Homo sapiens: one gene and its partners. The protein of the gene in region 2 interacts with the protein of the main gene of each other region in a pairwise test. Each region holds a gene or a part of one and is shown on either strand. Other genes may lie near its edges.

Evidence for each region.
Region 1: the proteins of NGB (region 2) and ZNF655 interact in binary tests that used the Homo sapiens proteins (3 or more experiments, as listed by UniProt).
Region 3: the proteins of NGB (region 2) and TEPSIN interact in binary tests that used the Homo sapiens proteins (3 or more experiments, as listed by UniProt).
Region 4: the proteins of NGB (region 2) and L3MBTL3 interact in binary tests that used the Homo sapiens proteins (3 or more experiments, as listed by UniProt).

Annotation. Positions count from the first base shown.
Region 1 is NC_000007.14:99,561,636-99,568,658, reverse strand, and holds part of ZNF655 (zinc finger protein 655), read right to left. Parts: intron 6,772-7,023; coding exon of another isoform or gene 6,686-6,771; exon of another isoform or gene 6,364-6,685; coding exon of another isoform or gene 6,165-6,363; intron 4,797-6,164; coding exon of another isoform or gene 4,600-4,796; exon of another isoform or gene 3,954-4,599; intron 1-3,953. UniProt on the Homo sapiens protein: Probable transcription factor.
Region 2 is NC_000014.9:77,268,207-77,275,594, reverse strand, and holds the start of NGB (neuroglobin), read left to right. Parts: upstream 1-4,388; 5' UTR 4,389-4,657; coding exon 4,658-4,746; intron 4,747-6,268; coding exon 6,269-6,380; intron 6,381-7,009; coding exon 7,010-7,129; intron 7,130-7,388. UniProt on the Homo sapiens protein: Monomeric globin with a bis-histidyl six-coordinate heme-iron atom through which it can bind dioxygen, carbon monoxide and nitric oxide.
Region 3 is NC_000017.11:81,236,046-81,243,157, reverse strand, and holds the start of TEPSIN (AP-4 complex accessory subunit tepsin), read left to right. Parts: upstream 1-4,102; 5' UTR 4,103-4,124; coding exon 4,125-4,172; coding exon of another isoform or gene 4,173-4,644; exon of another isoform or gene 4,645-4,998; coding exon of another isoform or gene 4,999-5,156; intron 5,157-5,497; exon of another isoform or gene 5,498-5,671; coding exon of another isoform or gene 5,672-5,698; coding exon 5,699-5,771; intron 5,772-6,080; coding exon of another isoform or gene 6,081-6,086; coding exon 6,087-6,178; intron 6,179-6,356; coding exon 6,357-6,450; intron 6,451-7,112. Other genes in the region: NDUFAF8 (NADH dehydrogenase [ubiquinone] 1 alpha subcomplex assembly factor 8), read right to left, coding at 2,005-2,171, 3,476-3,590, 3,711-3,794. UniProt on the Homo sapiens protein: Associates with the adapter-like complex 4 (AP-4) and may therefore play a role in vesicular trafficking of proteins at the trans-Golgi network.
Region 4 is NC_000006.12:130,133,567-130,140,589, reverse strand, and holds part of L3MBTL3 (lethal(3)malignant brain tumor-like protein 3), read right to left. Parts: coding exon 6,969-7,023; intron 6,748-6,968; coding exon 6,685-6,747; intron 981-6,684; coding exon 837-980; 3' UTR 1-836. UniProt on the Homo sapiens protein: Is a negative regulator of Notch target genes expression, required for RBPJ-mediated transcriptional repression. It recruits KDM1A to Notch-responsive elements and promotes KDM1A-mediated H3K4me demethylation.

The DNA of each region.
Region 1 (7,023 bases), on a different chromosome or scaffold from region 2:
TAGTGAGACTCCATCTCTACAAAAAATTAAAATTAAAAATTAAAAGGGATCTAAAAGATGATTTATTATCAAGGAAATGGAAATCCTTTACAATAAAAATCCAAACCCCAGCCAGGCACGGTGGCTCGCGCCTGTAATCCTAGCACTTTGGGAGGCCAAGGCAGGCAGATCACAAGGTCAGGAGATCGAGACCATCCTGGCTAACACGGTGAAACCCTGTCTCTACTAAAAATACCAAAAATTAGCCGGGCGTGATGGCGGGTGCCTGTAGTCCCAGCCACTCGAGAGACTGAGGAAGGAGAATCGCTTGAACCCGGGAGGCAGAGGTTGCAGTGAGCCGAGATCACGCCACTACACTCCAGCCTGGGAGACTCCATTTCAAAAAAAAAAAAAAAAATCCAAATCCCTAGACAATAGTCCAAACAATAATAAATTTGAGGAAACTCCACTATAAATAAATAATTTGAACACACTCCTGAAATTTTTATTTGTATTAAAAAATCTGGTCTATGGCTCATATCGCTTGCTATTCTTTCCAAAATATTAAAGTAACTAGCACAAGGCAGGTACTTAATTTTTTTTTTTTTTTTTTGGCCGGGGGGTATGGAGTCTCGCTCTGTCGCCCAGGCTGGAGTGCAATGGCATGATCTTGGCTCACTGCAACCTCCACCTCCCGGGTTCAAGCGATTCTCCAGCCTCAGCCTCCTGGGTAGCTGCAATCACAGGCATGTACCACCATGCCCAGCTAATTTTTGTATTTTTAGTAGAGACGGGGTTTCACCATGTTGGTCAGGCTGGTCTCGAACTCCTGACCTTGTGATCCGCCCACCTCACCCTCCCAAAGTGCTGGATTACAGGCGTGAGCCACCGCACCCGACACAAGCCAGGTACTTATATGCATAATCTAATTCAATCCTGTACCCAGAAGGTAGACATTATTTTTCATGTTTTATAAACCAAGAAAATGAGTGTCAGATTAAATAATTTGCTCAACATACTACAGCTGGTAAGTGGAACCCAAGCTTGATCCCAGTTTATATTCTTTCCAACCTATCATACTGCCTATCAAAGAAAGCATTAGTAGCAGGTTCTCTTGACATTGACGTGAATGCTTTTTTTTTTTTTTTGAGACGGAGTTGCACTCTGTCACCCAGGCTGGAGTGCAATGGCACGATCTCGGCTCACCTCAACTCCACCTCCTGGGTTCAAGTGATTCTCCTGCCTCAGCCTCCAGAGTAGCTGGGATTACAGGCATGCGCCACCATGCCCGGCTAATTTTGTATTTTTAGTAGAGACGGGGTTTCTCCATGTTGGTCAGGCTGGTCTCGAACTCCCAACCTCAGGTGATCCGCCTGCCTTGGCCTCCCAAAGTGCTGGGATTACATGTGTGAGCCACAGCACCTGGCCGACTCTATGCTTTCAAAATATGCACTTGCTTTACATTTTTTCCGTTTAAAATTAAGTTATTAAAACCTTTTGATTTTAAGGCTGGATGTGGAACACATGAGGCCAAGAGTTCAAGACCAGCCTGGCCAACATGGCAAAACCCCATCTCTACTAAAAATACAAAAATTAGCTGGGTATGGTGGTGCATGCCTGTAGTCCCAGCTACTCTGGAGGCTGAGGCACAAGAATGGCTTGGGCCTGAGAGGCGGAGGTTGCAGTGAGCTGACATTGTGCCACCACACTCCAGCCTGAGCGACAGAGCAAGACTGTCTCCAAAAAAAAAATTATTTTATTTAAATCTTGAGAGTTTTCTAATAAAATTTATTTTAATCTGGTCTTCAAAAATAACAGTTAAAGCTGAGCATGGTGTTGGCTCACATGTGTAATCCCAGGACTCTGGGGAGCTGAGGCATGCAGATCACTTGAGCCCAGGAGTTCAACAGCCTGGGTAACATAGCGAAACACCTTCTTTACTAAAAATAGAAAAAAATTAGCATGATGGTACAGGCCTATAGTCCCAGCTACCCAGAAGGCTGAGGTAGGAGGATCACCTGAGCCTGGAGGGAAGTCCAGGCTGCAGTGAGCTGTTATCATGCCACTGTATTCTAGCCTGGGCAACAAGAGGGGACCCTGCCTCAAAAATAATATTTAAAATTTGCCTTATCATATGGTTTGCTGCTTTTACTACGGCTATGCTTTTAGCCATCTGAAAGCTTCACGCTTTTCTTCCTGGTCCTTAATACACAAATAATATCTCTCCTTAGCAATATCATTCTTTTGTAGATACCTGTTGGACTGGAATGTGTCCCTAGAGAGTTTTACTTTTTGAATGCATGTCCTTTCTGGTCCCAAACTATATACTGGCCTGTCTGTCCAATTTGTCATGGCATTTTGAATTTTTCTTGTCATCAGAGTACACACAACTCACTAAAAATATTAAAAACTCCATGTGTAGTTGAACTTATTGTCCTAAGGGCACAAAGTAGTGAAAAAGTGCAGGGGCTTCAGAGGCAGATCTGGGTCCCAAGCCTCTCACTGATCCTGCAAAGATCACTTAACTTCTCTGAGCCTCAGTTTCCTCAGATATAAAATAGGAGCAGTGTCATCTGCTCACAGGGTTATGGTAAGGATTAAATGAGATATATACACATATCCTTTATATATATATATACACACACACACACACACACATATAAATGTCCTATGTCTGTGTGTGTGTATATACATATGTGTGTGTGTGTGTATACATACATATATATAGTACCCAATAACATATTGGCTGCTCAATAAATACTAAATAGCTGTGACAATGGAAAACATTCTGTGCAAAATAACTGTAGTCCTTCATGACATCAAGTTAAAAAAGCAGAGAGTATGTGCCAAACATTCCCAATCTACTGACCCAGTTAATATCAATTAGAATTTTAACAAGCATGCTTCTGAGGCCATCATCTAATAGGGCACCTGCCACACTTACCCATGTGAAAAGCAACTCGGTCCCCTTTATGGGTCTTAATCTACCACACTAAGTAACAGGTAACTTCCCTATGGATAGTGACCCAGAGGCAAATTGTTCATTCATCATCAATGGAGTATGTTCTTTTTTCAATTATGTGGTAACGAAAATTACTTATTACCGACTTCTTTACTCAGCTATTTGTACTCTGTATATTTACTGCTGCATAGTGGAAGCACTTAAGCAAAGGACCAACGTTCTAATGTCTGTGACAAATACAATCTGGAGGCCAGGCGCAGTGGCTCACAACCTGTAATCCCAGCACTTTGGGAGGCCGAGACAGGCGGATCACGAGGTCAGGAGATCGAGACCATCCTGGCTAAGATGGCAAAACCCCATCTCTACTAAAAATACGAAAAGATTAGCCAGGCATGGTGGCGAGCATCTGTAGTCCCAGCTACTTGGGAGGCTGAGGCAGGAGAATGGCATGAAGCCGGGAGGTGGAGCTTGCGGTGAGCAGAGATGGTGCCACTGCACTCCAGCCTGGGCAACAGAGCAAGACTCCGTCTCAAAAAAAAAAAAAGTCTTACAACCCTAAAAAGTTAAATTAATAAATGTATAAACTTAACCCAGTTATGCTGGAGGTTGCAATTTTTGTTAAAAATCAGACCTTGGCGATGACCTTGAGCAGCGGGACATAAATAATTCCCGCAAGCTTAGTGTTCCAATAATGGAACACTAGGCATAAATGGGTTAATTTTCAGATGAAGTCTGCTGAACCCAAAAATATGAAAATGATTTCCCAAGGATTGTAAAAATAACTGCTAAGGAGATGCTGCTAACTTGATCACAAAAGCAAGATGAGTAGAAGGCTTTCTTGCACTGTGCGTGTCTCTTGTATGTGTAAAAGTGTGTATGCATGTCGACTGCATGTCGAGTGTGCAGTGCAGAGATAAGAGAGGAAATGGGATAAAGTTCAGTCTATAGCATACTATGCTATTAGACTGCATTAAACTGCTACAAAGTTTCTTTACTCCAAAAAGTAGACAGGTTAACTGTTGGAAACTCTGTAATTATTAGATAAAATTAACAGTACTTTACAATTATATGTATGTCACTTTACAGTTTACAAAGTTATTAAGTAGATATTCAATTTGATGCCCTGAAATAAATTTAACTTCTTTGCCCTCCCTTCTCCCCTCCATCAAGGACAGAGTAAGGAACACTTAATCAGGAAAGGCAATATAATTGCATCAATCTGTACAGAACCACAAAGAATAAAGGGTAGGAAGGTAGGACCTTGAAGAGGGCCACAGGGACTTCAAGGAAGGAGGAAACCAGAATGTTAAACATGAGGGAAGCCCAGGGTTCACAGGAGAGTTAGGCACCATACGGGGCAGGTTGTGTTCGCCACATAAAAGGAGGGGCACACAGCATAAGTTTCACATTCTAAAATAATATGAAAAGACCATAACTGAAGAGCTGAATTTGGAATTTCTGGTTTTTCACAATACAAGTAGATGATGACCACCAACCATGGTTTCTGAATGAACTGGGTTCAAAACATATCTGGTTGCAACAGAGGGCTTCCTTGGACCCTAACATTTGAAATTAAACAGAGGTAATTTGAGGAGCTGCGATTTTACACAGTGGTGGCATCCTGGGGAGCTTCTATTCCATCAGTCAATTTTAATATCTCACAATCGTGGAAAAGGAGTTTCCGAGCAGGGACGAGCAATATCGATGGGAAGCCGATACTTGGGCCATCTCTTGGAGATTCCTGCTGTAAGGACGGCAAGTGTTTCTCCAGAGAAAGCACTTGCCTGGGTATGACTCAGGGCCGGGCAGGAATTCACACTATGAATCCGGGTGGTGGGAAGGCGGAGAAGTATGCCTACAAAGATTAAAGAGCCAGGAATGGAAAACACACTAAAAACCGTCCCAGTGGGCAGCCTGCCTCCCCACAAATAAGAAGACCTTGAATCCTGAGCATAATCAGGGAGACAAAGCAATGCCCTGGATGCCACCAGCATAGACAAAGCCAACGGAAAAAAAAAAAAGAAAAGAAAATGCATGATTCAGTATTTACACACACAAAAAGAAGAGTGCAGAAGCAAGCAAGAAACTAAAGAAAAAGGAGGCTGGGTGCGGTGGCTCATGCCTGTAATTCCAGCACTTTGGGAGGCCAAGGAAGGTGGATCACTTGAGGTCAAGAGTTCGAGATCAGCCTGACCAGCATGGTGAAACCCCGTCTCTACTAAAAATACAAAATTAGGCGGGCGTGGTGGCCCATGCCTGTAATCCCAGCTACTTGGGAGGCTGAGGCAGGAGAATCGCTTGAACCTGGAAGGCAGAGGTTGTAGTGAGTTGAGATTGCACCACTGCACTCCAGCCTGGGCAACAAGAGTGAAACTCCATCTAAAAATAAAATAAAATAAAAAATATAATATAATATAAAAAATAAACTAAAGAAAAAGGAACAATGCTCACACCAAGGGAGCTGCCGACAAACCCCACTGATGCTTCCCAGCAGCACTACAGCTTGGCTAATCCCAGCTTCCCACTGTACCTTTCAAAATGACAAGGGAGAGACATGAGTTAAGCATTGACCCCACCTCAGCATGGGGTAAACATCTGAGATTTCTGCTGCCCTGGGTGTGGTTACGTGGGATTACCATTCTGGGTGACTCACTGAAATGTACTCACAGTGAGTCATGCCTTCAAATGACATCTCAAGTTCTGCCTGCTTGGAGATACATCTGGGGATCTTAAGGGGTGAGGGACTACTCAACAAGAAGGAATTTAGCCTGTCTTTTTAAATAAACGGCATTTCTTTTTCCTAGAAAAATGGGAAATTCTTCAATTCTCTAATACAGGGACACTGAGATAACAAAGAGGAAAGTGTCTGGTTGGAGGTTGGGAGGCCACCCTGGGGTCTCTCCTACAAAAATGGAAAAGAAAAGAACGGTGAGAAATCAAGCAAAGCACAAGAAAGTTTCCCTTTGCTAAAAGGGAAAAGATGCCCCACAATGGCCATAAACATGAACTGGGGATAAGGAGGAGAATGTCTCTTCTTGGCACCCCCAAACAAACGTTAATTACCCCTCCCGGAGAAGACGATGTGAAAGATAAGGATTCAGAGGTTCTAAGTCCTGGAATCTAAGCCACACTCTACAGACCTTCTCAGAGACCTTATACTTAGGAAGAAACAAGAAAGTAAAGAAATTCAAATAGATAAACCGAATAATAAGGAAGTCCTTACCCAGTGAGACCACGTTCCCATAATTCTCTAACATCACTTCTCTGTAGAGGTCCCTCTGAACAGGGTCCAGGTATCCCCATTCCTCTCGAGTAAGGTGCACAGCCACATCCTCGAATGTCACAAACTCCTGAAATAACACATCCTGGCTGCTCTGAGGAATGAGAACACTGTAGCACCATGGCCAGAGAATGAAGATCATAGAGAGGGTATCCACTGTGTACTTACGTTGAGGAGGAGGGAGAACAGATTAGAACCTACGGAATAAAGCCCATAACCCTTAAACATCTAATAAGCACCCATCACACAACCATGGACAAAGAGAAAACAGAGTTTGCTCATGGCACTGGGGAGATGGGAAGTTGGTTTATGTGAAGTCCAGGTCTCCGAAGAGGATCAATTCCCAAACTGGAGTCTGCTATTGAAAAAAATTCCAGGCAAGGTCTACAGATGGGATGAGAGAGAGGCCACACTCCATCAGTAGCAATAGTCCCTGAGGAAAAGCAGAGGGTTCCTCAGCTCACCTGGTACCTGGCTGTCAAGAGCGCAGCTGCCTGGTCTCCTGGGCTTCCCTCACGGGGAAGAGCAGGCACCTGAGGAACAGGTGGAGCTGAGGGAGGAGAAAGGAGTGAAGAGTGAGAGCAGCCCTTTCCCAGGGCTCCCTTTCAGAGGAGGCCTCTCCAGCCCAAGGGGTGTCAGCAGGACCCTCCTCAATACTCTAGTAAAACCAATGAACATTTTTCAGGTATTGGGTGTGTCTACTCTGCTTCGTCTCAGTACTTGCATGCCTTATGCGTGTTTTGACCTGTGATACAGGATTTTCTTAGGAAAGCTTGTATTTCACTTTATCTTCATCACATGA
Region 2 (7,388 bases):
GCGGAATTGCTTTCTTCTGAGCCGGGTGGGCTCTCCTGCAGGGAGAATGCAGGGGTCTGTGCTTGGCTCTTAGCAAAGCAGGTGGCCCACAGTGACCTCCAGGAGGTGGCTGATTTTCCTTTGTGCCTTCTTATTTCTCAGTAGGAACTTGGAAGGGAAGAGCTCTGAAGGAGCCAGAGGGGCAGCCACCTTGCATGAGGGTGAGGAAGGAGAAGCCCAGCCAGCCTCTACCCATCCCTCCCTCCCAATTAGGCTGCACTGGGGCCGAACGCTTCCCTGGGCTCCCACTGCCTTCTAAGGAGCCAAGGAGAATTCCCTGCCCACTTTCTGTTCCTCCATGCCCAAACTGGCAGATGCTTCTCTGGGAGCAAGGCCACATGGGCTGATGCAGCTTTGAGTGCTCAGGTTCTGTTTTCTGGAAGTTGCTGGAGAAGGGCTGTCAGGGTGCTTCTATGAATATGGGCTTCAGCTGTAGCACTTGGCAGAAACGTGATGTGTCCCACAAACTGCTGGTGGAGGAAGAAGATGTTCGTCAGCCAATTCAACCTCCAGCCAGCTTCTTGAGCCTATTTGGTTTAAAAAAAAAAAGTCTTCTAATCAGAAGCCACTGATTTTATAATAAATAACACTTGTTTTGAATGCCTTGTTGTCCTTGTACTTAATTGAATCCGACTTGCCCTCTGCTCCCAGAAAGGCCTCCCTGAGAAGAATGTTTTGAGTGCAGGAACCACCCCGTGTGTCATGTCTGAGGCTGATCTAATTCCAGCAGAAGACCTGGGCTGGGCAGGTGAGCCTGATTACTCCAGGAGGCATTTGGATCTCCCCATGTGTACAGTTACTTGAGTAATGTTGGTCGTCATTTTGGTATATTTAAACTGATTCCAAAATAAGTAGGAAGCTGGACCTCTGATTTGTCCTCTTTTAACCTGTTCACATGGCATAGAAAGGAGTGCAAGAAGAAGTTGTCCCCTTCCCAGACAGCCGAGTATCCCAGTGCTGTAGCAACTTGCCATTCTGCCTAACAGAGGTCCCCATCTTGACAGGTGTCTCCTGTTATCAGGAGTGATGCTTAGGAGCTGAAGGCAGCAGGAGCTGACCTGAGTGTTGGACAGAGGATGGGGGAGGGGAGTAGCACTGTGCTGTGGAACTGGGGGGCTTCTGGGCTGCCTAGCCACCCTCTGGTAGGGGCTGGTGGGGAGAGAGGGGCATGTGGATCTTCAGGAGGTGGAACATGCCTACGACAGGCAGTTTAGGAAGGGGCCAAGTCACTCTTCCTTGAGTGGCACAGCTTAGTTTACAAAGTCTCAACACATCTCTGACATTTAATCCTCATAAAGGCCCAGTGAAGTCAATGATGTTTTTGTTCCCATTCTACCCATGAGAGATTAAATGACTTGTCTTAAGGTCCCACAACAAGTAAATAGTAGAGCCAGGACTCAGTGCCAAGTTTGGGTTTTTCTGCCTCTCTAGTCTTGTCCTGGGACTAGAGGCACCTTCCCAGAACAGCTGCAGCCCTAGATACCCTGGGGAGAAGGCCTGAGCACTCAGCCCGAGGTCCCTGACGCAGCACCTTCCCGTGGGCCTTCTGCTTAATGCATCAGCAGCCGCTCATCTAGGGCCCAGGTTTTCCTGGCTCCCCCAGGTGCACCCAGATCAGTGTGTGCTGGTAGATGTTTAACAACAGGTGTTCTGGGAGGAAAAACTGGTGTGTATAGCATTTGCCAATTTCCATGGTGTAAATATTCCCAACATGTTCTTTTTTAAGCTACCAACTTGATGTCACTGAATGAGAAGTTGGAAAGAGATGCATACAGTTGGTTCTTGAAAGCCATATGAAAGCTGGCTCCAGCACACCGCTGAACCAGACCCAGTGACCATGGCTTGGTCTGAATTATGGCTGGGGCTCTTGGCCACAGCCCATTAAAGCAAGGGAGGCATGGAGGCCTACAGGATGGGCCAGAGAGACCTGAGGTCAAATCCTGGCCCCACCGCTTATTACCTATGTGAGCTTGGGCTAGTTACTTAACCTCTTTGCCTCCATTTCCTCAGCTGTAAAACGAGGGTATGATAAATAGCACCTACTTCGTAGTTATTGTGAGGATGAAAAGAGGAAATGAAGTAAGGTGCCCGGAACACTGTCTAGACATAAATGCCAGCTCTGTATTATTAATGATACATGAACCTCAATGACCAGCACTGGCTCTGGGACAGTACTTGAATTCTCCTCTAGGTTCTTACCTCCTGGGCGGATGACCCACAGGGAGGAGACTCCTGTGACTTTTACTGAGCCCCTCAAATGTGGGCTTGGACCCTTGGTCTACTGATGGGAATACATCACTCTCATCGCTTAGGCCCATCCAGATTCTCAGGCCTTTCTTGAAGGGAGCAGGGATAGAGTGCACTTACCTTGGCTTATCTTAGCACATATCTCCTGGCTCTAGGAAGACAAAGAGTGAAGCCATGGTTTGAGTACTGACTCTACTTACTAGCTAGGGCCGTTAACTCCCACTACCTCATCAGACTCCAGACCCTGGCCAGAGGAGAGAGGAAGCAAGATGGGTCCTAAGTATAGATTGCTGGCAAGAAGCGTGAGCTGGGTAGAGTGGGGTACCTGAGACCAGCCAGGTGGCCTGCACAGAGCACTGAGCATCTGGGCACTGAATAGTGAAGGTCACCAATGACACGTGTCCTTGCCCTGTGACCTGCTGCACCTGGCTGCAGGTCCACGGGACCCCAAGCTGGAAGTTTAGTCACGTCTTGTTCCTTCAGCCCCAATCACTTTGTGTTCTTGCTTGGAGACCTCTTGGACCCTAGGACACCAGCTTTTCCAGGCTGCCTTATAGCCTTGCTCTCCTGCTCCAGCCCAGAGATTTGTGAGGAAATGGGAAATAGAATAGGGGTTACCACAAACTCCTGAGTCCTTGGAAGAGGGAGAACAGCTAGATGATTTCCTGGGGCATGGCTAGGAGTAGGAAAGAAAAGTTCTGCTGAGGCACTCAGTTCTGATTCAGGGCCAGAAGGAGAAATTTTAAAGACCAGGACTCGCCACTCCATGTCTAGCACAGGGCTGGGCATGGAGCCCCAGCTGTTCATAACCAGGGGCTCAAGAACACCCACCTTCTACCCATGGAACTAAAGGAGGTGGACTAAAAGGTCCCAGAGACCTCACCACCCAACCCCTTTGCTGCACAACTGAGGAAACAGGGCCAGAGAGGCGTGGACAGACAGAGGAGATAGGCTCGGAGACCCCTGAGGGAATAATGAGAGAGAAATAAAGGTGAAAACGGGCTTGCTCTCCCAAACCTGGGCCACCAGCACTGGGCTGGGGCTTGAGGAACTTTCTGCTTGAAAGAGAAAAGTTTAGTTGTAATTGGCAGGTGGCCAATTGCACACCCTGAGTGGGGAGCATGGATTCTATTATCTGAACTTCTATTGAAAAAATTAAACAGTACTTCCGTTAAAAAAAAAAAAAAAAGGCCGGGCGCAGTGGTTCACGCCTGTAATCCCCAGCACTTTGGGAGGCCGAGGTGGGCGGATCATGAGGTCAGGAGATCGAGACCATCCTGTCTAACACGGTGAAACCCCGTCTCTACTCAAAATACAAAAAATCAGCCTGGCGTGGTGGCGGGCGCCTGTAGTCCCAGCTACTCGGGAGGCTGAGGCAGGAGAATGGCGTGAACCCGGGAGGCGGAGCTTGCAGTGAGCCGAGATCACGCTATTGCACTCCAGCCTGGGCGACAGAGTGAGACTCCGTCTCAAACAAACAAACAAAAAGATGAAAAATCATGGAAGTGGGGAAGGCCCAGGGAGGGAAGAGGTGAAAAATTAAAATTAAAATTAAAATTAAATCATGGAACGGTAGAATGTTAGAGCTGAACTCCCTCAAGATTCCACCCTGGCCAAGCAGAGCTGGGATTAGAACTGGATCTCACGGCTTTCTAAAGATGGAGTCTCAAAAAAACCCAGGCCTGGCTGGGAATGGCTGTGGTCTTGGCCCTGTCCCTACGGCTGAAAGCCCTGGTGGCCCCCAACGTGTGCTGGTGCCCTAGTCAGACCGAGAACTAGGCCCCTAGGCCGCCTCCCCAGGCCTGACCTGCAGGCCAGGTGGGTGGCAAACTCAAATGCCTCTGGCAATGCGTGAGTTGAGGGGCCTGTGGAGAGGGGGCGCATGCAGCGCCTACCTGAGGCGACCAAATTCAACACAGTGCCCTCGGGGCTCGGGAGGAGAAACTGAGGCCCAGAGAGCCTCCGCGATGTCAGTTACGTTCTGCAGGCCGGGCCTTTCCCAGGCCACCATAGCGGCTGGCGGAGGGAGCGCGCGCCTTGCTGGCCTGGAGGGGGCGGGGGCCGTGGCGGCTTTAAAGCGCCCAGCCCAGGCGTCGCGGGGTGGGGCGGCTCTGGCGGCTGCGGGGCGCAGGGCGCAGCGGCCAAGCGGGGTCCCCGGAAGCACAGCTGGGGTGTCTCCACCTACGACTGGCCGCGCGCCTTTTCTCTCCCGCGCCAGGGAAGGAGCGGCTGCGGCCCCCGCCGGGCGGAGGCACGGGGGGCGTACGAGGGGCGGAGGGGACCGCGTCGCGGAGGAGATGGCGCGGCACGTGCGGTGACGGCACCCGAGCCCTGAGGGTCCCAGCCCCGCGCTCCGCGTCCCCGGGACAGCATGGAGCGCCCGGAGCCCGAGCTGATCCGGCAGAGCTGGCGGGCAGTGAGCCGCAGCCCGCTGGAGCACGGCACCGTCCTGTTTGCCAGGTGAGGGCTACACGAGCGCCCGGGGATGCGGGTGGAGGCTGCCTCGGCGGGAAAGGGGTCACGCGGCAGGACCGGCCCCGAAGGAGGGAAAACTGGCCGCTGCCGGGGCGCTGGGGCGCCTGCCAGATGTGCGCCAGAGGAGCGGGGCGCGGCGACGGGTGGCACAGCCCCTCTGCCTCTCTCTCGACCGTGGGCGCCTGTTGCCAACCAGCGCCGCACACCACTCTCCCAGCGGGGCTCACCGGGCCGGGCGGGATCCCCTCCCGCGGATCTCCCCACATCTGGGCGGGTGGACCTCCGTCCCTGCGCGGCGCCTCCACCCCGCCTTGTGCCTCCTGCGTCTTCCTTAGGTAGCGACTGCAGGGGTGCACCCCGCTGCCGGTATCAGGGTACTGGGGTGCCCCGAGAGCCGGGGAAGGGAGATGTGTGGGGCGAGCTCCTGCGCCCGCGTGTGAGCGGTCTGGCTCCAGGTGTGTGGATCCCTGACAACCAACAAGACAAACCTTTCCGAGGAAAGAGCCAGAGAGCAGCCGGGGAAGGGGTGACAGATGCGGGAGCCTCACCGCAGGGGAGAGGGGTGGGGGGTGTGCAGGCCGGGTGGGAAGGGAAGGCCAGTCTCCAACCTCAGCTCGCAGTTTTGGTAACCCTTCCGCTATCACCAACCGGGCACTGCTTCCCTCACCGTGGTGTTACCTATCCTTGGCACCCTTGGACAGTCCAGAACTTCTACCCAGGCTTCCGCAAAACCACCCCCAAGACAAAAGGGGAAAACATTCAGTTACCCGGTGAGACCTCCCAAATGCCGAGGAGGGCCTCTGCTTCTGCCTCCGGACTCCCCCCAGCTCACTTTTTTCTCAGGCACCCGCTGTGGCTGCACTACATCCAAGCTGTGTGACCTTAGGCGAGTTCTAGCCTCCCCGGGCTTCTGTTTTCTCCTCTATAAAACTGGGATAACAGTTGTACCCACTGCTTAGGACAGTGAGGAATACAGTTAAAAGTTAACCACACGGAAAGTACTCAGCGCAGGGGGGGGGGGGGGGGGGGGGGGGGGGGGAGAGGGAGAGGGAGAGAGAGAGAGAGAGAGAGAGAGAGAGAGAGAGAGAGAGAGAGAGAGAGAGAGAAGAGAGAGAGAGAGAGAGAGAGAGAGAGAGAGAGAGAGAGAGAGAGAGAGAGAGAGAGAAAGGGCTTTCCTCTCCACACAACGTAACTCCAGGTTTCCTGTTTGGGGACCTCTTCCTGTCCCAAATCACACCCCTCAGCTATTCACCGAGGGACCCCTGCTTACCAGAGGCCCTGGGACACATTTGCCCTTTCTAGGATGCTGCCCAGAGCCAGTAGAAGGCATGAGGAGGAGGGCACTACCGAAGCTGGCGGGGGAGCAGTGCCAGGTGGGAGAGTCAGCTGTGGTTTGCAGCTGAGACCTGGCTTGGCACCCCCGCCCGCTGACTGCAGGACAGCCAGGCTTGCTGGGGCTTGCAGGAGCTCACACCCCAGGGCTAACACCTGGGCCTCACTCCCACAGGCTGTTTGCCCTGGAGCCTGACCTGCTGCCCCTCTTCCAGTACAACTGCCGCCAGTTCTCCAGCCCAGAGGACTGTCTCTCCTCGCCTGAGTTCCTGGACCACATCAGGAAGGTGAGAGGGAGGCAGAGCTGCTGTGACCTCTGGGATCCAGCAGAGCACCTCCCTGGTGGAGAATGGAGAAAATGACTTTCTGCCCCAGGTCTAGTCTTACTCCCTTCCAGTTCCCCCAAGCAGGGTACAGCTCCTTTCCCTCTGGGCTGGATTGGTCTGGGACATCAGAATCAGCCTCTTCCCCTACCCTGCGTTCAGAGAGCTGGTCCCAGCCTGTGTCATTGCCTTTGTCCTCTGGCTCCCATAGGTTGTGTTAGCACAGATCCTGGTAATTGGGAACTATCTGCCTATGAAAATCAGGCTGAGATTTTCTTAGAATCTCATGATTCTCAAAGGGCCTCAGTTTCTCCTTGTCCCAGCAGACAACACTCTCCAGTAGGTGTGTTTAGAGATGTGAATTTCTCAGAGGAGAGAGGCTTCCTTCATGGGTATAACATTAGTAGTTTGGCCACCACGTATCGGGTGCCCCCTACATGTAGTAGACACAGGCTGCCTTTGACCCCTGATCTTGGAGAACTGAGGGTCCTACTGGCCTCTCTTGCTTTGGGACCCTCATGCCTTGGGCTGTGATTGTGAGCAGATGGGGCTGCTCTGGCCTCTCTGTTTCACTGCTGCCTTGGCCTTGGCAGGTGATGCTCGTGATTGATGCTGCAGTGACCAATGTGGAAGACCTGTCCTCACTGGAGGAGTACCTTGCCAGCCTGGGCAGGAAGCACCGGGCAGTGGGTGTGAAGCTCAGCTCCTTCTCGGTGGGTAAAGGAGCTCTGACTCTCTCCAGAGCTCCTGGCCTGGGGCCACTTCTCTCTCCCAGACCTCCCCTTGCCACCTGTTCTCTCTCCCATTCCCATATCCTTAGATAACCAGGGCTGCGGGCCTGCATCTGTTACCTGCTGTGTGGCCCTGACATGGGCTTGACCTCTCTGAGCTTCCAAGTTCTCTTTTCTGATATGGCTTCTTTTAAAACCATAAAAATTAACAAGCTTTTGGGATCAGCTGGTCTGCTCAATT
Region 3 (7,112 bases), on a different chromosome or scaffold from region 2:
GCTGTCCCGTCGCCGGTGTGTACTTCTGCGCGGGAACAGACTTGCGCAGCACGCTGGCCCAGGGACGGATTGAGCGGAGCTGAGCCCTCAAAGAACTTTGGGTATCTCCTGAGAGCCAAGGCATTTGCTGTGGTTTGATGTGTCCCCTCCAAAATTCAGGAGTTGCCTAAGTGACAGTATCAAGAGGTGACTAGGCCGAGGGCTCCTTCCTCGCTCGTACGATTAAGAGCCTTATAAAAGAGGCTGCACCTCCGCCTTCTGCAGTGTGAGGACACGGCACAAAGGCCCTCCCCAGACACCAGTACCAATGCCTGGATCTCGGGCTTCGCAGCCTGCAGAGCTGTGAAAAATCAGGCCGTTCTTTGTAAATCACCCAGTCTCAGGTGCTTTGTTAGGGCAGCAGGGACGGCCCAAGGGCACCTGAAGCAGTTAGAGCTCCACACTGTCCCTGCGGTGCGAAAACAGCAGAACCCCCACAACCTCCCCTCCCCCTCCCCCCCGCCTCCCCCCCCCCCACCCGCCCAGCTTCCTGAGCTGTCAATCGATGTGGTGCTGAAATCCAGTCACTCAGGGAGGAAGGGCAGAGCAAAGGTGGGAGGTTTGCAAGGAAATTTGGGGTGGCAGAAAAGAGGGTGTACCCCGGAGGCCTGAGAGCTGAGTTTGGAGGTGTGGGCCACGCTGGGCCACAGGAAGTGGCAGGTCTGTCACCACCTCACACACAGGGTGAAGGACAGCGAGGGGGAGTGCTGGCAAGACAGGTCTGTGGGTGGGATGGGAGGCTGGATTTGGAGGGAGAAGATGCAGGAAGCTCTGCCAATGAGCTGCCAGAGAACGGAGAGGGCGTGACAGGGCTAAGAAAAGGACGTCTGCACACTGAGGCTCGCTCATGGATGAGTGCTGGGCACAAGAAGGAGGAAGGCAGGGGTGGGGGGCAGCCGGCCCTGCACGCTGGGGAGGCGGGTCGGGTGGTTTGTGCCAGCGCAGGGCATCTGAGTCTGGCATGCACAGGGATGGACTGCGGTGGCTTGACCCCAGGAGTCTGGTCTGGATTTCCGTGGTTCCCAAGATGTGACACTATCCTGGCCCTTGGGACAAAATCCAGCACTCTGGCCTGGCTCCTGCAGACCCACCACCCAGATCAGACCCTTAGGGGAAACCAGGTTAATTCTGGGGCAGCATCTGGAGGAGGAAACATGGAGGAACAGACCTCAGCCCACGGGGTCAGCCGCTAGCACGGGCCTGGGGGCAGGCGCAGGCTGCAGCCCCAGGAAAGTGCAGCCTCTGCACCCCGGAGCAGGGGGGCTCTCAAAGCAGTCCCCGCCACGCCCTGCAGGTGGCGCTCAGGCCCCATGGACTCCGGGGTCTCACCATCAACAAGTGCCCGGGCAGAGTCAGGATGTGGCCCTTCTCACCTTAGTTTTAGGTCAAGTGATGTGATAGGGAGGGGGAACGAGAGGGCAGGCGCCATCGGTGAAGTACCTGGGCTGCCGAGGGGGCGACCAACCCCACACAGGAGGGGCACTGGCTGCTGGTGCTCTACGCAGGCCCCTCTCGGAGACTCAGGCCCTTTTGTGAAGAGCCTCCGCCCTGCCCCGTGTCCAGGAAAGCCACCTGCGAGGACCCTGCCCCATGGAGTGTCCCCTCGTGGTGCTGACGTCCTTGTCTTTGGTGTGTGCTGTATACCCACAGCAAGGTCTGCAGGCTTCACCAGATTCACATTAAATACCTTAGTGAGAGTGTTTTAAAACGGGGACCTTGAGGCAGGGTGTCCCCAAGTCCCAGCCCTGCCAGCTTTGGGGGAAAGGCTCTGGGCCCCATTCCATCTCAGAGAGGCCAAGACCCACATGTTGCAGTCTGCACACAGTAAGCCCCAGGCTGCAGGATTTGACCGAGTCTTTATCGTGGCTTCCGTTACATCTTATTCTAACTCAGGTTTACGGACACAATGCTGGAAAACCAATTCCTGCTCTACCCACGCCTCAACTTGTTAAGAAAAAACAGGATCTAACACCGAGGAATGTCACATCTTCGCCATTCCCACTTCCTTTCTGCCCTAGGCATTCGATATGTGCCACCAGGGGCCATCAGGACTAGGGCTCTGCACCCATGGCAGCAGACAGGTGTGAAGCTCAGAGTCCCTCCTAACAGCCTCCCTCCAGCGTCTTCTTGGCCTGCAAGATAAAGTGTTTTGTCTGAATGGCTTGCTTCCAAGTTAGATACGCCTCAAAAGCAAGCTACCACACCACACGTTGTGTTCTACCAAATACCTTACAGAGAACTTGGGTGCTGGCATATGGTGGGGGCTCGACTGGTTGGAGCCTGGGGCCCCATGGGCAGGTTCTCTGGGTCACTTGTCCACGGGACAAGGGCCTCATGACACTATCACAGAACTCACTGCTGCCCCCTCCTCTGAGCCCCCACGAGATGCCACATTTGGTCTCAAGCTCTCATAGAGGGAAAGCAGGAGCCCCCCCCCTTTTTTTTTTTTTGAGATGCAGTCTCACTTTGTTGCCTAGGCTGGAGTACAGCAGCGTGATCTCGGCTCACTGCAACCTCCACCTCCCAGGTTCAAGTGATCTTCCCACCTCAGCCTCCCAAGTAACTGGGACTACACCACCATGCCTGGCTAATTTTTTTTTTCTTTTTTTTTGTAGAGACGGGGTCTCCATATGTTGCCCAGGCTGGTCTCAAACTTCTAGGCCTAAGCAATCCACCCACCTCAGCCTCCCAAAGCGGTAGGATTACAGGCACGCGCCACCACACCCAGCAAAAAGTGCAACTTCTGATGAGTTGTCCACCCCTGGATCCAAGGCTGCTGGGGCCGGGTAGGGATGAAGGCCGTGGAACTCTTGTTCAAATACCCTTTCTCTGGTCCAAATCTCCGGATTAACAGCTCCCAGTAAACAGAGTCAGCACTGGCATCAAGGCCTACCCAGATACACTGAGGTGGTACCCGGTGCGGCTGACACTTAGGGAACCAGCCTCAGAATGACTTAAAGCCCCACGGGCAAGAAGCCCTATCGTGCCAGTTGTGAGGGTGGCTGGGGGTTCCCCGCAGGACACGTGCTGAAGGAATCCACCACTGCAGGTGCACAGGGGCTGCAAGTGCCAGGGAGGTGAAGACCCGGAAGGTGCTGGGCACTTTCCGGGAGTCCTGTGTTGGGTCAATCCTGGCATGACACCCCCCGGCGGCAGTGCTAACACGAAAGCTTACGCGTTTTACAAGGCGCTTTTTTGCACACATCTCCCATCCTTTCTGAGGTTGGTGCCAGTCCCGCTTTACAAACATGCAGGGACAAGCCCAGGACGGCCGAGGTTTCGCGGGCTCGTCGATGGCTCGGTGATTTTGTCAGCCGGCGTCTAAAGCACGCGGCAGGCGCTCAAACCTTGAACCAACGGGAAAGCAAAGGAAAGCCGGGGCCCGCTGGCTCTTGGAGGGGAAGGGCTGGGAAGGGGGGAAGGGGCCCGCGCCCACCTACCGCAGCGGCGAAGCAGCTCCGCAGGGCCTCGAACTCCCGCGCGCAGAAGTCCTTACTCAGGCGGCCGCCCGGGGCCGTGGAGGCCTGCACGCACCTGCCGTACGCCGCGGCCTGCGGAAAGGACGGGCGTGGGTCGTGGGGTCCCCTGACCCCGTCACCGTCCTCCCTCCCAGCCACCTCCCCGCGCGGCTCCTCCTGCCCCGCAGCACTGGCCCGCCCGCGGCTCCTCACCTCGGCCCCGCAGGCGGCCAGCCGCTCGGGGAAGGCGCGGAGGCGGCTTCGCACGCGGCCCCACACCGCTCCGTTAGCCGACATGAGCGGCTATTCCCAGCCCCCTGGAGGCCGCCATCTTAGGTCCGTCCTCTTCCGGTGTCAAACAGCTTGATAGGTCGGCGCTTCCGCCCATAACCTTTCCTGAACTTCTTAATTGGCCAGGCTTTGCCTGGCCTCGAGCCCCCGCAATTGGCTCTTGTCCTAGTCTGTCTGTGCTCTGGGACTTCGGATTGGCCTAGGCTCCAATTGTTTACGAAGCCAACCTCAGGGCCCGCCCTACCGTGAGGGATTGGCCGGCGGACCCAGACCCGCGCAGTGATTGGAGGGCCCGGGCCTGGCGGAAGCGGGGCAGACCGGGAGGGGACCTGGATCATGGCTGCCGCGCCGCCGCTACGGGACCGCCTGAGCTTTCTACACCGGGTGAGTGAGGGCGGTCCGCCCGGGCCCCGGTCCCACGGCTCCTCTCGAGCGCCGCATTCCCCGGACTCGCCCCGGGCCGGAGCCATTGACCTTGCGTCTCCGCGCCGGGTAGCTGCTCCTGGCCCCTTCGCCCGCGCCGACGCCCCTGAGCTGCCCGCCCGCCGCGCCGTCCCGGGGCCTTCCAAGCCGGGCCTTCCAAGCCGGACCCGCCGAGCGCAAGGGCGATGGGCACAGCCAGACCCTGGGGGAACGAACAGGCCTCGGCCAGCATTCAGTGGCCTCCGACGGGAGGGAAGGAGCGGCGGACCCGGTGGACGTGGAGCCGCTGTGTCCGTGCTGCTGGCGCCCAGGTGGGCTGGCAGCCCGCCGTCCTCCCTGACGGTGGCGTTTCAGAGGACTCCGGTCCTGGAGAGGCACCCCTGGGTTGCAGAGAACACAGACGTCTCGAAGGGACAGAGAAGGACGCACCATTGTAAGCCCCTCTTAGTAAACCCTCTGAGAAGTAGAGGCCGGGGCGAGTTCCCAGGTGTCGTCCTGAGCAAACTGCCCTCTTTTGTCAGCCCTGAGCTTTCCTGGGCTGGACCTCAGAGGGGGCTGGGTGGTCCCAGGGCGCGACCTTGGGCTGCCAGAAGCCACGCTAGGGTTGGTCAAGGCTCTCAGTGCAAGGTTTCGACATAGTCGTTCTGTGCTGCGTTCTGCAGTTGTCAGCTGTCACCTGCAAACCTCAGCAGCTCCCCTTAGGGCGTGGTGGGCAAACAGTGTCAGTGATGCGTGTCCACAGCCTCGGGAAACACTTCAGGTCCACGTTTTCGTATGTTGTCACTAGATCTCGGCCCTTCCGACCGAAAGGCTTCGGCACCTCACGCGGTGGGTCCCATGCTTGTCCTGTTAAATACTCTTGAACTCTATTCTGTCCTGATACTGAATAATGCAAGAATGGGTGGTTCCAGTTTTCATCCCTATAAACCGTACATCTTTGTGCCAGTAAGTAAGCATGAAACAAATAAGTACGTCTGCGCTAAGCGAACGTAAAACACACGACATCAGTCGGTTCTCGGGGAGCGATGGAGCTAGTCACGCTGAGCGGCTGTCACTCTGCCATTCCGGCCTCTGGGGAGGTGGAACGATTCATAGTCCCCTGTGTGGAAAAGGGGCTTGCCTGGGCCTTGTTTGGCTTTGCTAGTCAGTAGGTAGGTACAGGAGAGGTACCTTCAAATAGCCTTACATGCTGGTAAGTGCAGGGAGGCTGGGGGCTGTGTCCCTTCTTAACCCAAGTGGCGCAGCTCCTCCGTGGAGAACCACCATTGATTTGCCTCTTCTCCGAGGCTGTTCATCCCTGACTGTTGAGAGAGGACCCTGCTGCAGCCTCCCTGTGGCCAGTAGCACAGTTCTCATCCCTTCCCAGTCCTCTCTCCGGCCATGTCAACAGTGAGAGGTGGGTCGTTTCCATCCCCTTTGGGGGGCTGCGGATTCACCCCTGTGGGAAATGGCACCTCATCATGGTAGGGGCTCTTGTTCCCTTTCAGCTCCCGATTCTCCTGAAGGGGACGTCCGATGATGATGTCCCGTGTCCGGGCTACCTGTTTGAAGAGATTGCTAGTATCCTTCCTTGATGTCCCCGTGTAGTGGAAAGAGCGGATGGCAGGGTCCCAGAGTGGTGCAAAGGGTTCCTGGGGATTCTGCTGTCCCTAGGGGGATGCACGGCTCCTTTATTATTGTAACCAGGCATGGGTGGGGTCTGAAGGCTGCAATACTGATGACACAGGGGACCCTAGAAGCCCAGGTGCTCCTGATGGCAGAGCCTCCAGTAGGCGCCTCCAGGGAGCGTGAACTGAGAGGCCCCATGGCCTGGTCTCCCTGCGGCCTGGCGCAGCCCTCATCATCTCGCCCTTCCCTAACCCGAGCGTGCCGCAGAAATCTCCCACGAGTCTCCGGGCAGCAGCCAGTGCCTGCTGGAGTACCTCCTGAGCCGCCTGCACAGCAGCTCCGGCCACGGGAAGCTCAAGGTGAGCCCCTGGGTGGTCAAGGGTCAGGCCTGAGGCCCGGCCCACGGTGGTGAGGATGGAGGAGCAGACGAGCGGCCCAGGGTGGCAGGCAGCTCTGTGCCCTTGGGGTGCCCCCGGGCCCTGCCCTGGGTGTCCCGTGTCCGGCCTGCCCAGCACTGCTGACCGCCCCACTCCCCAGGTGCTGAAGATCCTGCTCTATCTGTGCAGCCACGGCTCCTCCTTCTTCCTGCTCATCCTCAAACGCAACTCTGCCTTCATCCAGGAAGCTGCAGGTACAGGGGCCGCGCACGCGCTCAGGAAGAGCCAGGGCTTTGGAGAATGGGGGAGGGTGGCGGATCCTCCAGGTTTGAGAAGGAAGACTTCAGCCAGAGCCCTCACCTGGGCCGGGTCCCGATCAAAGCCCCGCCTTGCTGATCCTGGCCCATCTCTGGCCTCTCCACCTGCTGCCCACCCTCACCCCAGCTGGCCGGCTCGGCCTCCCCTGACGCGCCCTGCCCCCTCCCTCCGCTGGGTCCTCCGTGCCTCCTATGCGTCCCTGGGCCTTTGGCTGCGTCTGTCCCTGCGCTTGCTGCCCCGGGTGCCAGTTTGTTTCTCTGTGTGCCCCACGGGTCTTCCCCCTCCATCCCAGTGCCCACACATAGCAGACTCAGTGCCTGTTCACACATCCTTCCCAGGCTGTGGGTTCCCCTTCTGGGGCTGCTCCTCGGAGCCCAAGACAGAGTGAGGCCATGGGAGGGCGGAGCTGGGAGGCAGGAGAGGCGGGGCCCCGGCCAGTCGGTCTGTCCAGGCAGAAGATGGGTCTGGGGGAGCTGTCCCCGCAGGCTTGGGGGCAGTCCCATGTGCCTCTGCCTAATGAGGACTTGTGGGGGCTTGGCCTGAGATCTTCCATGGGGTGGAGGGAGGCCTGGCTCCAGGTGGTCACTGGGCGCACCAT
Region 4 (7,023 bases), on a different chromosome or scaffold from region 2:
ACTGCATACAACTGCGTACTCCTCTGACACCATCTGGCTCTTGTAAACACCGGGGCACCAAGATGAGTGAGACTGATGCCACTCAAAATACACTACCTAATTTATTTATGTTTATATATTTTATTTTTCAATTTCATTCTTTTATATACATGTTTTTGGTAATTATAGTAAAGATGCTGGTGAAAAGTAATTTGTTTAACATTTCATAATGCGTGCAAAAGGAAAAATACTGATTCAAAGAAAAGTCATTCTTACAACTATTCAGCCCTGACAATTATGACAAGCAGTTAGGCAATATCATGACTTGCAAAGTTATACTTAGCATAATGTTGCAATTCAAAATATGGCACAAAATTAACAATACAGATAACAGTCCTACTGGCTAAACTTAGCCAGGTTTCGACTAATTTGGTTTAAATTGAAATTTGATTATATAAAAAGGTTTCTGAAAGTATTGAAAAAGAAACAGTGTACATGAAAGAGAATTCAACAATGTTTACAAAATGCCAAAAGTTCTTACTCTGCCCCCCATTACCATAAATAATTAATGAAGCCCCCCTTCCCCCCACCCCCCAGACTCAAAAAGATTTACAAAGATAAATTTAGCTCAGTGAACAGAACCAAAAGATGACTGTTGTTAGACAGTACCTGGTTAAAAGCTCAAGCACTTTCATAAGAATTCATATATATTGTCTCTTGAGTAATATAAATAATCCGATAGTGTTGCTCTTTTGAGTTTTGGAGACTTCTCACTTAGGAGTTATAACCGTCCTTGTGCTTTGAATAAAACATGAGCTTTAAAGCAGAATGCTGATGGTATTCAGAATTCACCATCTTCAAAGTTCATTGTGAGAATTCTTCTCTGCAGCTTTGAACATCAGGATGGAATTGAAAATTTTGAGAGCAGGGCCCAGTTTAATGCTCATAATTTTAACAATGTCTGTTTGAGTCATAAGTAGAAATGCTTCTCCATCAATTTGCTAAAATGGGGGAAAAAAACAACAGAATGTGGATTAACAAGATGCAGTGTTGTAGAAAATATTCAAGGTTAAATTACCAGCTGTCTTCTACATAGCAATGCTAAAAAAGCACAGAGAAGTTCACGTGTGCAATGACATTTCTTGATATATGGACCTTTCTTATCCACAATGACACATCCCAAAGTGGACTGGGAACAAAGTAAACTAATTCACCTGAAAAACCAGCCAAAGGAAAACAGAAGGTGCCCATATCTTCCTGTGATTACTCTGAATTAGTTGTAGAGTTAAGAAGAATATGGAAAAATCCAGGATGCCCAAAGTCTAGTTTTTATCATGGCAGGTTTTAAAATTAGAAGAGATAACAGGTACATGAATGTTTGTGGACATAAAATAACTCAGGCAAACATATCAGCTACATGCAACATTTTTTTTTTTTCCAGAATTAGCCTTCCACCATGAAGAAAAGAAAATCAGAAAGATAACACTTATCTCTAGTGTGGCCACAGTTAAGTCTTTACACACAGAAGAAAAGCATTTACTAACGGGGCAATCAAACAGTGAATGTGAGGCTGGTGTTACGAGTCACTGACTTTAAGGTGGTTCTTCTAATACGCAGGTAGGGTAACTATGAGAAAGACCCTTCCTCTCTCTGGACATCTTCTAAGACAAAAGTCTATGCTTCTGAAAAATAGGCTACTATTCTCTAGAAGTTCAAAGGTACAACACATCTTTTAGGTTAAAAGATAAAATACTATGAAAATGATGTCTGGCTTACTGGGCAGAGCAAAGAAACAGTCTTTCATTATGACTTTCAGCTCTTCTATCACCTTAAAAAAAAAAAGTTTCCCTTTCAGTTTTCCCACCTTGTACAAAAAGTAAAACACACTTTTGTTCTCTGCCTTAGAACATCAGAAACCTTGACAGCAACGCACTCCGTTATGGGTTGAATGGTGTCCCTGTCACAAAAATTCGTATATTGATGTCCTGACTCCCAGTACCTCAGAATGTGACTTTTATTTGGAAATAGGGTCAGTGCAGAGGTAACTGGTTAAGATGAGGTCACACTGGAGTAGGGTGGGTGCCTAATCCAATTATGACTGGTATCCTCATAAAAAGGAGAGATCTGGAGAAAGAGACACATATAGAGGGAAGGCAACGTAAAGACCCAAAGAGAGACCACCATCTACAAGTCACATCTACAAGTCAAGGAGAGAGGCCCAGGACAGATTCTTTCCTCACAGCCCTCGGGAGGAAGCAACCCTGCCAACCCCCTGACTTCTAGCCTTCTTCAGATTCTCAGCTTCTAGAACTGTGAGACGATGCATTTCTGCCATTTAAGCCACCCGTTTGTGGTTGGCATTGTTATGGTGGCCCTAGCAAACTAAGACAACTCTAAATTCTGCAAACAGTTCTCTAAACAAGGCTGATATAATTAAATTGCTACTTCTTAAGATTTTCCTCTCTCCTTTAAAAATGAAAGACCTGTAAATATAGACTGCCTAAATGCTTCATCAGTAAGAACTGGAGTCATCTTACACAACTTCTTCAAGTAACAATTATGTGGAAAAAGTGTGCTAATTTCAGTAAAAAGACATCCTGCTGTTGTAAACTAGAAGGAAAGACGTTCCAGTGTTAATCTCCAAGTGTAGCACCGTTAAGCGGCAGGTATGAGAAATGTTCTCCTGTTTTCTGGAAACATTGGTCTGTTCTCATTTGCTTGTGCTATGACAGTCCTCTGATAAAGCAAGGTCAGGAAGAAAGGCAGATCTATTAACACTTCGCTCAACCAAGGCAGACCTTAGTACAATGGACAGCCTTATAGAAGTCTTCTAAGTCATTAATGAAAATGTCAACTGACATTCCCAAGGAGCCCACTACAAAGGCTGACTGGTTTATTACAACCTTGGCCCTACTGAAGGCCTGGCGCAGACAGCAAGTCTCCTTCTGAAACTATGTAAGAGTATAACACAACAGGTAACTGATGAAAAAAAAAAACATCCAGAGAACTTAGTGGCTGGGATTTGAAGTTAAAAGTGGGACAGTAAGGATACATTTTGGTAGGTTGTTATTTATAAGGTTACATACACTAGAAAGAAAAAAAATCTTGAGGCTACTTCCAAACTCTTTATTACATACAGGTTGCTCTGACATGTGGCCATACAAACAAGTCTTGATTGGAAGGAAGTCAACTTAATTCAGGAAAGTACATCCTAAGAACAACAGTGACCACTGCAATGTATTACAAGGCTTACTTTTTTTTCGGTTAGCTTCTGCAATGCATATACAATGCCATTATTCCAGACATTAGGTGTCTTGCTAATGGCCTAAAACAAAGGAGAGGGATTTGGAATTCAGGAGCTCTGGCCTTCCATTTCACTGCCCTTTCCACTATTCACTATTTGTTCTTTTCCAATGCCTTAACTCGAAACCACAGTGACATGCTCTGTCTGAGTGAGTCTTTCTCAGAGTGTAAAGGCATGAATGTATTCACTCAACAAAAATATACTGAATGTCTATTATATTCCAAACACTCTTCTTGGGCTTAGACATATAGCAGGGAATAAAACAAATAAAACCAAGCAAGCAAAAAACTTTTTGTGGAATTTACATTCTAGAAGTGGTAGACAGACCATAAGCCAATAAACATACTAAGTAAGCCAATTAATTAGTAAGTTAGAAAGTGACTCATGTTGGCCAGGAGCAGCGGCTCATGAGTGTAATTGCAGCACTTTGGGAGGCTGAAGTCAGTGGATCACTTGAGGTCAGGAGTTCAAGACCAGTGTGGCCAATATGGTGAAACCACATCTCTACTAAAAATACAAAAATTAGCCGGGTGTGGTGGCACGCACCTGCAGTCCCAGCTACTTGGGAGGCTGAAGCATGAGAATAGCTTGAACCTGGGAGGCAGAGGTTGCAGTGAGCTAATATTGTGCCACTACACTCCAGCCTGGGCGACAGAGTGAGGCTCTGTCTCAAAAAAAAAAGGTGATTTGTGCTATGATTAAACAGAGCTGACTAGGAAGATGAATGGGCAGCAGGAGCAGGGATGCATGTGTGGTGACAAGAGGCAATTTCAAGTAAGAAAGTCAGGGCAGGACTAATTGGCAAGCTGGCATCTGAGCAGAAGAAGTGAGCCACATGAACATCTGGAGGAAGAGTGTTCTGTGCAGAAGGAGGAGCGGGAGCAAGCCTGGACAATCAGAGGAAGAGCAAGGAGGCCAGCACGTAGACTCGTGAGGGGCAGTGTAAACAAAAAGCCAGGGGGCAAGAGAGGTAATGAGGTGTCAGACTGCAGGCCCTTGTAAGGACTTCTGCTTTTACTCTGATTGAGAGATGAAGCTATTGGAAGGACCTGAACAGAGGAGTGACATGGTTTGACTTATGTTTCAGCAGGGTAACCTTGGCTGTGCTGGGAATAGACTGTAGAGGAGCAAAAACAGAAGCAGGAAAATGAGTTTGGAGGTTACTGCACTAATCCAAGTGGGAGAGGATGGTGGCGCAGACCAGGGTGGTGGTGGCAGTAGGGTGATAAGGGTTTTACATGTTTCAAAGATACACCCAATAGGATTTTCAACAGATGAGATGTGGCATGTGTAAGAGAGAAGTCAAGGATAATTTCCAACAACAGCCTATCTGAATACTTGTCCTTTGCCTTTTAAAGATGATTTATAAGACTTCGGTTAGATTTGTACTATGGTTTACTTGTAGGACTCAAAACCCAAACCCACTGACCTTGTGAGACACTTGAGAACAAGGACTAGGTTTCATTATTTTCGAATCATCCTTCTCACAAGAGCATGACACAAAGTAACATACTCATGGTCGGAATTTAACAAATGTGCACAAGATGAATGAATGAAGGAGTAAATGAATGAATAATTCATATCGACAGAGAATATTAACTATCTCACTCCTCCAGAAAAGGATCTAGCTTTGAGCATATTTGGTAACTGAGGAACATCTCCAAAGACAATCTGCCATGAATAAAAAAAATTACTCAAAAAATAGCATCTCATTTTGAATTTAAACTTGAATCTTACTCAAACTGAATAATAGAGCAAACCTATAGGGATTATCTAGATAACAACAGAATAAAAAAACAGAAGTTATAAAAGAGATGCATTATAAATTTATTTTCAAAAATGCTTTATTATTTTCAAAGGTAATGACAACATGACATTTTCCAAGACAGACCAACAGCTCCCTATGTGGCTCTAAGTCTGCTCAGCGATACAGAATGAATTCAGGCTGGGCACGGTGGCTCACGTCTGTAATCTCAGCACTTTGGGAGGCCGAGGTGGGCAGATCACCTGAGGTCAGGAGTTCGAGACCAGCCTGGCCAACACGGTGAAACCAAGTCTCTACTAAAAATACAAAAAAAATTAGCCGAGCGTGGTGGCGGGCACCTGTAATCCCAGCTACTCAGGTGGCTGAGGCAGGAGAATCGCCTCTGCCAGGAGGCGGAGGTTGCAGTGAGCACTCTAGCCCAGGAGAGAAGAGCAAGACTCCATCTCGATTTAAAAAAAAAAAAAAAAAAAAGGAAAAAACAGAAAATGAATTGAGAGTATCAGTGAAGACACTCAGGACTTAGGGAAAGAAAATCTGAATAACTGCCAATTAAAGATCAAACAGAGAGAAAATAAAACCTTTGCACAATAAGAACATAAATCAGAAAAAGGATGTTGGAAATCAGATCCTTGTGCATTTTAACAAGCTTTCATCTAACGCATAAATTATACCTAACAGTATAACAACACTGACAACTGGTGGCTGGATTGTTAGCTGTGTCTATACTCCTGCAATGAAATGGAAAGTGTGCTGTTCTTAACAGTTGAGCTTTACACATAGGGGCAAACAAGTTGTGTATGCGTGTAACTGTAGACAGCAGATGTTGGAGAGCACCTTCTGAGATTACTCAGTCTACTTTCTGCCTTCTGGCAGGAGTAGACACAGCCAAAATCAGAGGGGTAATTGACTGCTTTGCTTGGAGGAGATGACAGGCAAGTGGCTTATTTTTAAAGGTCTCTACTGAAAAGGGTCTCCTGCTGTACGCTTACAGAATTAAAAGTTAGAAACCAGATTCCTTTTTATTCTAGTGCTCACTGTAAGTGATATCATTCTTAATCACCCCTTATATTGAAGTTTTGGAGAGGGAGTTGAAAACAACTAATAAAATAATCTTCCAAAAGTGGACTGTGATAAATATCTTATTATAAACATTATTGAGGAATGTATATGACTTAAGGGATTTTTTTAGACATAATGCTAATATTACTTATTATAAACCTCAAATGGAGTCAATCATGGTGTTGTTAGAATGACACTGGAAAATAAAATAATGGAAACTAATTTCACTTTATTAAAAAGAGAAAATGTTGCTTCTTTCTTTCTTTGGCTTCCTCTGTGCTATAAACTATATAAATGCATGCTATTAAGTTCTGTGGGTTTTCTTTTTATAAGGAGCCTAGTGTTACTGCTGTGGGGTATCATAAAATGGTACTCACAAACATTCTTATGCATCTCATCTTATACAAAGACATTTTTATACAACTGATTCATACTGCCTGTTAGTATACATCAATTTGTCAATTTCAACACACCCCATCTCTTTTTGACTCTGCCAATTCCACACATTTCACCTTCCACTGCATTTCAGTGCTTTGATCCCATTAAGTAACATATTGCAATTTAGTGGAATACTTACTTCATCTTTAAATACCTTTCCATGTTCTTCACACCCAGGTAAGCTCTGTATAAATTCTGACACCTGTCAAAAGCAATATCAAAATTCCCAGTTAAAAAACACAGTCAGAATCTAAATGCTACAGGTTCAAAACATTTAACCCATATGCATTAGTTATTTCTCTCACAATAATTTCTTCTCTTTCAGAAAAAAAAAGACTAAACGCTACCTACGCTCAATGTTCCACACCTCTTAAGCCAGTAATCCTGTATCTGGTGTCGGGCAGCAAAGAAAATAAAATATACCTCGTCTGTGCTCCATTTGGAAACTTTACTGGCAGGGATTCCTGCGACAGTTGGA